Regions from separate parts of the Homo sapiens genome. Here region 2 is linked to region 1. The links come from fine-mapping of genetic effects on gene expression. Tissue or cell type: tibial nerve. Region 1 holds a variant in brackets; the other region holds the start of a gene. All regions are shown on one strand. Distances are from middle to middle.

Region 1 (4,408 bases):
CATAGTCTTCTCTTTTGGAAAGTAGATAAGAAAAGTGTAATGAGCTAAAAGCTTTGAAAAACATATGACCATAATATTTCATTGACATTTATAAAGGGAAAAATAATGTGAAGTAGTAATTTAAGTAAGTTTTTACCTTCTTAAAAATTGATTTTTTTAGCACTGGGCTTCAAAGGTGCATTTGAGAAATAAAAGGAAAACTCAAGAGATAGAAGAAAATGTTTGCAAATTGATATTGAATAATACATGCCTATCCTAAATACACAAACACCCTTACAATTCAATGATAAGTTAATGAACACAATGTAAAAAAGATCAAAATATTTTAGCAGACAGTTCCCTACAGAAGATATATGGAAGGCAAAAGATGCTCAACATCATTAGTCATTAGTAAACATAAATTAAAGTCACAATGAGCTACCACAACACCTTTATTAGAATGGCTAATTTTTTAAAAAAATGACAATATCAAGTACTGGCAAGTATGTAGAGCAAGCAACTAAAAATCTCATGCATTGCTGGTGTGAATGAGAAATGATAAAGTTGTTTTGGGAAAACCATTAAACCATTTGACAGGTTCTGATAAAGTCTAACATACTACCAAGCAATGCTACTCCTACATATTAGCAAAGACAAGTGAAAACGTAAGTCCTTTTCTCTACATCCATACCAGAAATCAAAACCTGTACCTAACGTTTAGAGTGGTTTTATTTATAATTGATAAATTTTAGAAACCACCCAAATTCCCATCAATTGCTTAGTGGATAGACAGACTGGGGTACATCCATGCAATTTATGTATTCAACAGTAAGAAGAACAAAATACGAATACAGGCAACAACATGGCTGAATCTCATATGGTTTTCACTAAGGGCAAGAAACCAACTCAGAAGTCTACATGCTATATCATTCTATTATTATGGTATTCTGGAAAACACAAAACTACAGGGACAGAAAACAATTGCTGATTGCTAAATGCCTGGGTTGTAGGGGCAAGGGTGAACAGAGTTGGAAATTATTTATACCTTGATTGTATTGGTGGTTATCTGACTGTAAGTGTTTGTCAAGATTCATATAATTACCCACTTATAAGGGTAATTTTTTGCTGTATGTAAATTATATCTCATAAATAACTTTAACAATTGTATTCTCACTCAAATATTGAATGTAGTCATAGTAATGAGATGAACACATGTATTTCATTCTTATATAAGAACAAAATCTGCTTATTTTACTGTCATTAGTAAATTCTTGGAGACATTAAAACAAAACCTTCATAAATTTCAAAATATTCTGTTACTATGTTGTTTATTTCTCACTGATTATCCCTCCAATTGGGATAAATTTGCCAATTTAGAATATCTAAAAACAGTGAATCAAAGCAAAAGAAGAAAAATATCTCTCAGGACGCAAGTTCCTGGATTTTTTTTAAAAAAGAAAAATAGGGGAAAATATGGGGGGAAAAAGTGGGAAAGGCAGAAAATAAATAAATTGAAAGACAAGGAGAGAAGTTGTCATAAAGCAGAGGTAAAGGCAGGAGTCCGTGATCTCACTTGATCTCCCCAACCACCTAGTAGAGTAGATACTGTTGTTATTCCTATTTTGCATAAAGGAAAACTGAAGTTTTAGGCAGGGTGCATAATTTAGGCACCCTCATACAGCTAATAAACTGGGGAAAAACCATTTGAAGCTTAGGTACAGCAGCTGCTAACGCCTGTGTTCTCTGCATGGAGCATTAGGGTAAATACTCTGCTATATCAATGAGTTATCTCGGTTGTTTTATCTCAGTTATCTCAAGGAATTATATCTCAGTACAACACATGGTTGCATTGATTTAGATACCCTAAGGGTAATAAGAATTTAAACAGGAGAGGGGATTTAGAGCTGTTAACCTCTTCCTTGTTTGGTCTAGGGCTAGCTCACCTTGACAGTCATTTACGGATGGATTGTCTCCTTGGTTAGAACCTTTAGACAGCATTCTCGTTTGATTTTCCAAACAAAATTGGCATTCTTATTTGTCCAAACAAAACTGTCTAGTTTGTCATAGTAGTAAAAGCCATGAAGCCATACTGTTCACTTCATCACAAGTCCCTTTTTGGGGAAAAAATAAATGTAAATGGTTTGCATCTAAAGTCTATATTATTTCAAGGTGAGTACTTTACTAGATGAGTTAATAAATAATGACTAAGACCTTAAAAAGAAAATGATCTGGTTTATGCCACAGGAATAGTCATTGATTTGGCAGGATAAACTCTAAGGAGCGCCGACAAGACTCATGTGGTAAATTAGGCCTGACTTATTTTTGTCAGCTGAACATTGGAGTTATCACTGACCCTTATGGAAGAATCTGTATCTTATTAAAGCACTGTTGCATCAGAACTATCCCAGTTCCCTGAATAGACCTGAGTAGTGTATGAACATTTCAATAGCAGCTATCCGGATTTAGACTTATGGATTTTCTGAATTGAATAGAATATAGTGAACCTGGCCTAAAAAATTAATCCATTTTGATTTTTTGCAAAAGACACTTGCTGAGGATCATTGGAATAACGTCCAAAAAAGTAATTCTGTGTTTCGTAGTGTTCCTTTTCTGCAGCT[G/T]CTACAAACTGGACAGGGACCAATGGGGGTTAGTGGTCTCTGGTGTGAATAGCTCTACTTAGCTATCCATTAATCTCCAAAGAGATGTCCAGATTCCAAGTTATTATTGATTCATGGACAAGCTCTTTCAACCTAACAGACAGTATATGTTCCAAAATAACACAGAACATATGCATCCTTTATTAGAAGCTGCCTTAAGTGTATTCATACAAAGTGAATGTAGAGTGGGAGGTTGTTATACTTTAGTGGTCATGAAGCGCTGATTTGAGGCCTTTTTCTTGGTAAGATTCTGATTTCCTAAATAAACTTTAGACACACACAGATGTAATAACCCATTTATTATTTTGTTCTAAGTTTGTAACAGGATCTTCTAGGAGCATTAATTGTTCAAAATATGTCACCACAAATTCCAATTCCAGAATGTGGGAAAAAGAGCATACATTTCCCAAATCATATGTTAATCTGGCCTGACTCTATGTAATAGCAGAGTGAATATCTAGAAGAAGAAAATGAGGACCATGGCTTCAACATCATCCAGATTTGTGGGGTGCAATCTTTATTTTATTGTTAATACTTTTTTATTTTATATTGAATTATTGTACTAACTTAAATAGAAAATCTTTAAAATTGGATAGTAAGTTGTTTATTTACTAATAAGTAGTCAACATATGAAGAACTATTAAAACCTCAAATTATGACAAATAAAATGAATGTTAAGACTGACAGTGAAAAAAATGAGTTTTTGTTTTTTAAAAGTTTTCTCCTCTTGTTTAATTTGTATAACTGAATGCCTTTAGTTGTAGAAGTCACATAAGTGCATTTTTATTGTAAAAGATGAATAGCATATAGAAATGTATTGTGAAATGGAAAAGAGTCCTCCATTCCTACTGCTTTCTCATTATCCTCTACAAAGTAAAGCACTATTAAGATTTCAGGGTGCTGTTTTTCAATTTTACTTTCTGTACATTTACGCATATATACATATATATCTATGTCAATTGTGTTTATTTTAAACAAATAGAATTATCTAATAAGCATTTTTTCTGTGAGTTGCTTTTTTCCATTCCTATGTTTTGGATATTTGATAGCACTATCTCGATTTTTTGGAAAAAAAATATGAATATTTGGCAATTATATTTATAAAAAAGCTTATATGCTAATAAAAAGTTTAAAAAAGACCTAGATATTTTTACAGATATGTAGTTTGCATAAGGGCAAAATCGATATATGAGTGGAAGGAGAAATGGAAAATATAAATGAAAAACTTTTTAAAATTTATTAGATATTTTTCTCACTATGTTAATGTTTAGTATTCACAATGTAACAACACATGAAATATTCAGTGTTTTCAAAAAAAAATCTGCGCAGTATTTTCTGGCATAGAAGATGATGTATTTACTGATTCCTTGTTGGTAAATATTTAGGTTGTTTCAATGTTTTTTACTATAAAAAATAATGTTGCAGTGGATATTCTGTATATGTTTGTCCATATTTAACTCACACATGGATACATTTATTCATCTACGAATATTTTTTATTTATAAAAATGAAATTCCCAAGAGCAAACTACTGCCAATTTACGTTACAAGAGTCTCTCCTAATTTATATTTGCATTACCAGTATATAAAGCTTCTGTTTTAATTCTCCTCACCACGACTTAATATTACTATGTTTTGCTTGCCCCAGTCTCATGGAGAGAGAATTATGTTGCTGTTTTAATTTCCATTATGGAAATGAAAGTTAACTGTATGTTAAGTTAACTTTAATTATATTAATCTATATTAATCTTTATTAACTCTATTAATACAGAG
Region 2 (4,408 bases), 44 kb before region 1:
AGCCCAATTAAAGATAAAATAAAAATTCACAAAGACGAAATGAAATAAAGTAGGAAATTGTTCAGATCACATGCACTGGTGGTAAATAATGAGTTTTTATGAATCCAGGTAAAAGGCAGTGCTTTGACTCTTAAGAGTGCCTCTAGCACTACCATAATGTTCACTGATGCATGTTCACACCAGATCTTAAGAGCATCATGGAACCAAGTTAGACTTGATTTTTGAAAGTGGGCTGTCCATTCCACTTACTTTTGCAATAAGCTTTAGCTCTATACTAAACACATCGCGGTGTACCTTCTGTACTATTTGTCCTATAACCTAATGGTAGGAAAAATTGAAAAAGGCCCTGAATTAACTAGACTGTTTTTTTGTTTCAAGTTCACTGAATGAATAATTTAGATAAGTAATTTTCTGAGTCTTAGTTTTACATCATTTAAAATTAAATTTTTGTTTTAAGAATCATGTTAACAGCTATTATTTCATTACATTCCCAAAGCAATCTTATGGAATAAGCTGACAATGACTAATACCTCTATTTTATAGTCAAAGAATTCGAGTTTCAGAGAAATTCCTTCCATTGAGTCAAACAGAACACAGAGTGGGTTGTAGTTGATAAATATAGCCAAAATTCCACAATTTGGAATCCACAATTCCAAATATGTTATGTTTATTTATTCATTTCATCTTCACAACATCAAACACATGAAGAGGGAGCTATTATTATATCCATTTTACAGATGAGGTGACTGAGGCAGCATAAGATTAAGTATCTTGCTGAGGTTACAACTAATAAATGGCAGAGATTGAATTGAAGCTCAGACAATCTATTTCCCAAACATGTAACCACTTGACAAAACTGCCTCTCTAAGGGCGATAAACATATTAAAACCTGTGATACCCGCCTTCAGGTTATTTAGACCCTTTTACAAAAGTAGTGAAAGTATAAATCGGCTTATCATAGGAATGAGTTCTAGTTTTTTGGAAGAATATACATATTGTAATTGTAATATATATTATTTTGATGTTCCCAAATTTATCTAGTTCTTAAATTCTTGCTCTATAGGGCCTGGAGGCCAAAAATAGTCTTGCCTTACAGTATTTGAGGTTCAGACTATTAGGTCTGTGGCGTTGCAATAAAAATGTCTGTATCTGCTCCAAAACTAACCCAGGCTAGGAATATACAGGAATAGGAATTTAAATGTCCATAGGGTGCAAACCATAATTTAAAGCCACAGACCCCGAACTCCTCTACCACCTAATCTGTAAGCTCCCTTAGATTTAACCCCTTTCTCACCAAACCCAGCAATGCCTATTGGGCATGCCCAGTTGCATGGTTAGAGCCTCACACCCAGTTTTACTTTCACCAGGTTTTACCAGCTGCAAAAGGGAGGAGGAGACGGAGGGAAGAGTTAAACAGGTAGAAAACTTGGTTCAAGACAGAGCACAGAAGGCTGGAGAATGACGACAGGCTGCAGTAAAAAGCACCTTGTCAGACACAGTTGATCGTCGTCTGCAAGTTGGCATCTTACCCTGGTGGGTTCCTTTTACATCTTTTTGGCACAGCCTAGGCAAGTCATGAAGATTTGTTGTGATTACCCAAGGCAGAGCCACAGTAAGGGGTGGGGCAAGGGACATCGGATCTAGAAGAATGCCAGTGCCTGTGTGAGTCTTGCTTGCCCCTGCATTCCTCGAAAAGCTGCAGCTTCTTTTCAAGGGTTCCGAGCAGGAGACCAAGGTGCACAAGTAAAGCCAGAGCTCATCATAATTATCGACTCCTTGGCCCCTTCTCTTTGACTGCTGGACCCTTTCCTGGCACCCTCTCAGGTATCCCCGCCCAATCACTACCAAACCCCGGAGAAGTGGAATCTCCATACAGCTTTCCATGGGTCTAGCAGGGGCCTGGGCATGCTCAGTAGGCTACGTGGTTCTCTGGTTCGTGTTCGTTCGTTCTCTCTCTCTCTCTCTCTCTCTCTCTCTCTCTCTCTCTCTCTTTCTTTCTTTCCGATGGGGAAGAGAGGGTGGTGACAAGTTAGAAGCGCTTGCGGAAGGTCCCCGCCCCCAGGATCAGGCTCCCCCTGCAAGGGGACGATGCAAAGGTAAAAGCACCTCGCTCCGCAGCATCCAGACCTGGAGGGGCTGCGACCACGGGCCGAGCCCACCCATTCCCCAGCCAAAGGACGGGCCCGCCGCTCTCCATGGTACTGCGGAGAGCTCAGCTCCGCCCTTCTCTTTCAGAAGGACAGCACCCGGCGTCACGTAACCCAGCCTTCTCAGGCTCCACCACCGCCTTTTCCTTCCCAGCTCTTTCCCTCTCCTCCCCCTCCTCCTCCTTCTCCTCCTCCTCCTCCTCCTGCTCCCCTCCGTTGCCTGTTCTCCCCTCCCGCACTCCTGGAGATAGACGCTCAAGCCTGACGCCTCTGAAAAGGCAGCAGCAGTCGCCTTATCCATAGACCTCAGGAAATTCGCTTTGACCGATGCATGCTTCAGGCTCTGGCTCGAGCTGAGGGGAATAACCGGGCAGGTAAAGAAGCTCAATTTGGGTTGGGGGGAGGGGATGGGGCGAGGCAAGCTGAAGAAGGATATCTTTCCCCATTGTAACTGAGCCAGGATCTGCCACAAATACACAGGGAAAGATGGGTGGTGGGAGGGTGGAGGAGTGTAGATCTTGGTTGTTTTGCATGAAGCCTTTTAAATAGATGGCAAGAAGAGATGGTGGAACTGGGGTAGTAACTTAAAGGCTGAATGCAGTGATGTATTAGCAAAAGAAAGAAAATAAGAGACAGGCTAGATATCAAAGCAATAAAATATCTCTCCATATATTTCCTTCCCTACCTCATCAGCCCCACACTGTGCCCATCGTTAATTTGTGCAGTAGACCCCGAGCTCCAAGAAACTGCACTGGTATTAGAGATGGAGCTTAGAGACTGGGCGGGAAAGCCAGAGAGAATTTTGGCTGTGCATTGGTATTGAGAGACTTTGCAAAAGCCAGGGGTGAAATAATAAGCACTTCTAAAATTTCTCTCAGAGATTTCATGTTCTTTATGAAGATATATATATATATTGAAGGGTGCATGGAAAGGTGTAGGTGTGTATGTGTGTGTGATATCAGAAACATTAAAATATGCAACTGCAGCCGATGAGCGTACTGTATTGATCCTCCTAGTGACTTGGGATGAATTTGATTCTAGAAATGAAAGAAAAGATTAATGATGCTGTTAGTCTGCTTTTGAATTAGAGCGCTTCTTCTTTTGGCTGCAGTAAGGATGTTTTTCAGATCCCTTTATTTCATCCTCTAATTTGTGAACTGGCCAGGTCTTTCTGGCACCTAGAGAGAATCCTCTTTTCTCCATATAAATACAGATACTCGCTCACATACAATGAGCTTCCTCCAAGAACTGGGAAAACCAGTTAACCTCCCTGTGATAAGAATGTATATATATCTATATGTACATATATATTGCTCTACGGTTTTTCTCTCTTCCACCATCCCTTAAAATTGTCAAGGTGTGCATTAGTGGAGGAGGGCAGGAGGGACGGGAGAAAAAAGGTTATGTGATCAATGTAACATTAATTAATACAATAATTGGCTCCAACAGAGTTACACACACAAGAAAAAAAAAAAGGTTTTCTAACACATGAGCTTGAGAAAGGGTTCAAAGCACTACTCTTGATCATGATATTCCAGATTTATTTTGCAAATGACTGAAAATTTAGCAGATTCCTGAGTCCACTTAAAATATGAAAGTATACTGAATAATATGCTATTTCAGATGATTTGACGAGCCTCTTTCCTCGGGTTTGATATAGGAGAAGACAAGATATGACTGGTGATTGCTGATGGTGTGGAATGTATCAGCCATAATAAATAAGCAACTGAGATTTTTATTTCCTTTTGCTAGTGGGCAGTGTGTATGTGCGCACACCCACACTGTGTGTGTGTGTGTGTGTGTGTGTGTGTGTGTGTGTTGAAAGAGAGAGAACCAGTCATCAATTTCATCTGGGAGGAACTTGAAGTGGGATACCCTAGCTTGGTGGCTCTCAGCTGACACCTGTGGGGATTGCTCTGTACTGAAGAGAAATGCTCTCAGCTCCCCCCATGGAGAAGCAGCAGCACAATGCGGTGCCATAAATTACTGCTAGTTTCAGCTTGTAAGGGAAAAAAAGTGTTAATTGGGTAGTGAGCTTCTACATCCAGACAATAAATTTGGGGTGTGTGTGTGCATGTGTGTATGGTGTATATATATTGCAGTGTGTGTGTTTGCAAGAGGTGGGGAATATAAGAAATAGTGAGAAAAATAATGCACTTCCTTGACATGAACAGATTATACATTTGTAATTTTTTTCAAAAGGTAAGAGTAATTTTTTGGTTAAAAAATGACTTAGGAAAAAAATCAGTGATTATGATTTC

Which allele goes with the higher level. Positions count from the first base shown, and alleles are read on the strand shown. Sizes are in standard deviations (SD) of each study's normalised expression.
In carriers of allele G in region 1, the expression in tibial nerve of the gene that starts at base 2,370 in region 2 tends to be higher than with T alone (small effect, 0.13 SD a copy in GTEx).

What was found. PIP is the estimated chance that this variant, and not a neighbour inherited with it, causes the effect. A credible set is the group of variants that fine-mapping cannot tell apart.
Region 2: NRXN1 starts here. The variant in region 1 is the best candidate, but not a certain one, in a credible set for the expression of NRXN1 in tibial nerve (GTEx, PIP 0.71).

The regions. Positions count from the first base shown.
Region 1 is chr2:50,986,045-50,990,452 of GRCh38, reverse strand. The region is part of intron 2 of NRXN1 (neurexin 1); the gene reads left to right. Among named protein-coding and RNA genes, the nearest start is that of NRXN1, 44 kb to the left of the region's middle. The variant G/T (reference allele first, on the strand shown) is at 2,598.
Region 2 is chr2:51,030,094-51,034,501 of GRCh38, reverse strand. It overlaps NRXN1 (neurexin 1), which reads left to right and starts at 2,370. Exons shown (of 23, transcript NM_001330078.2): 1 at 2,370-2,521. It overlaps NRXN1-DT (NRXN1 divergent transcript), which reads right to left and starts at 1,901. Exons shown (of 11, transcript NR_135237.1): 1 at 1,486-1,901.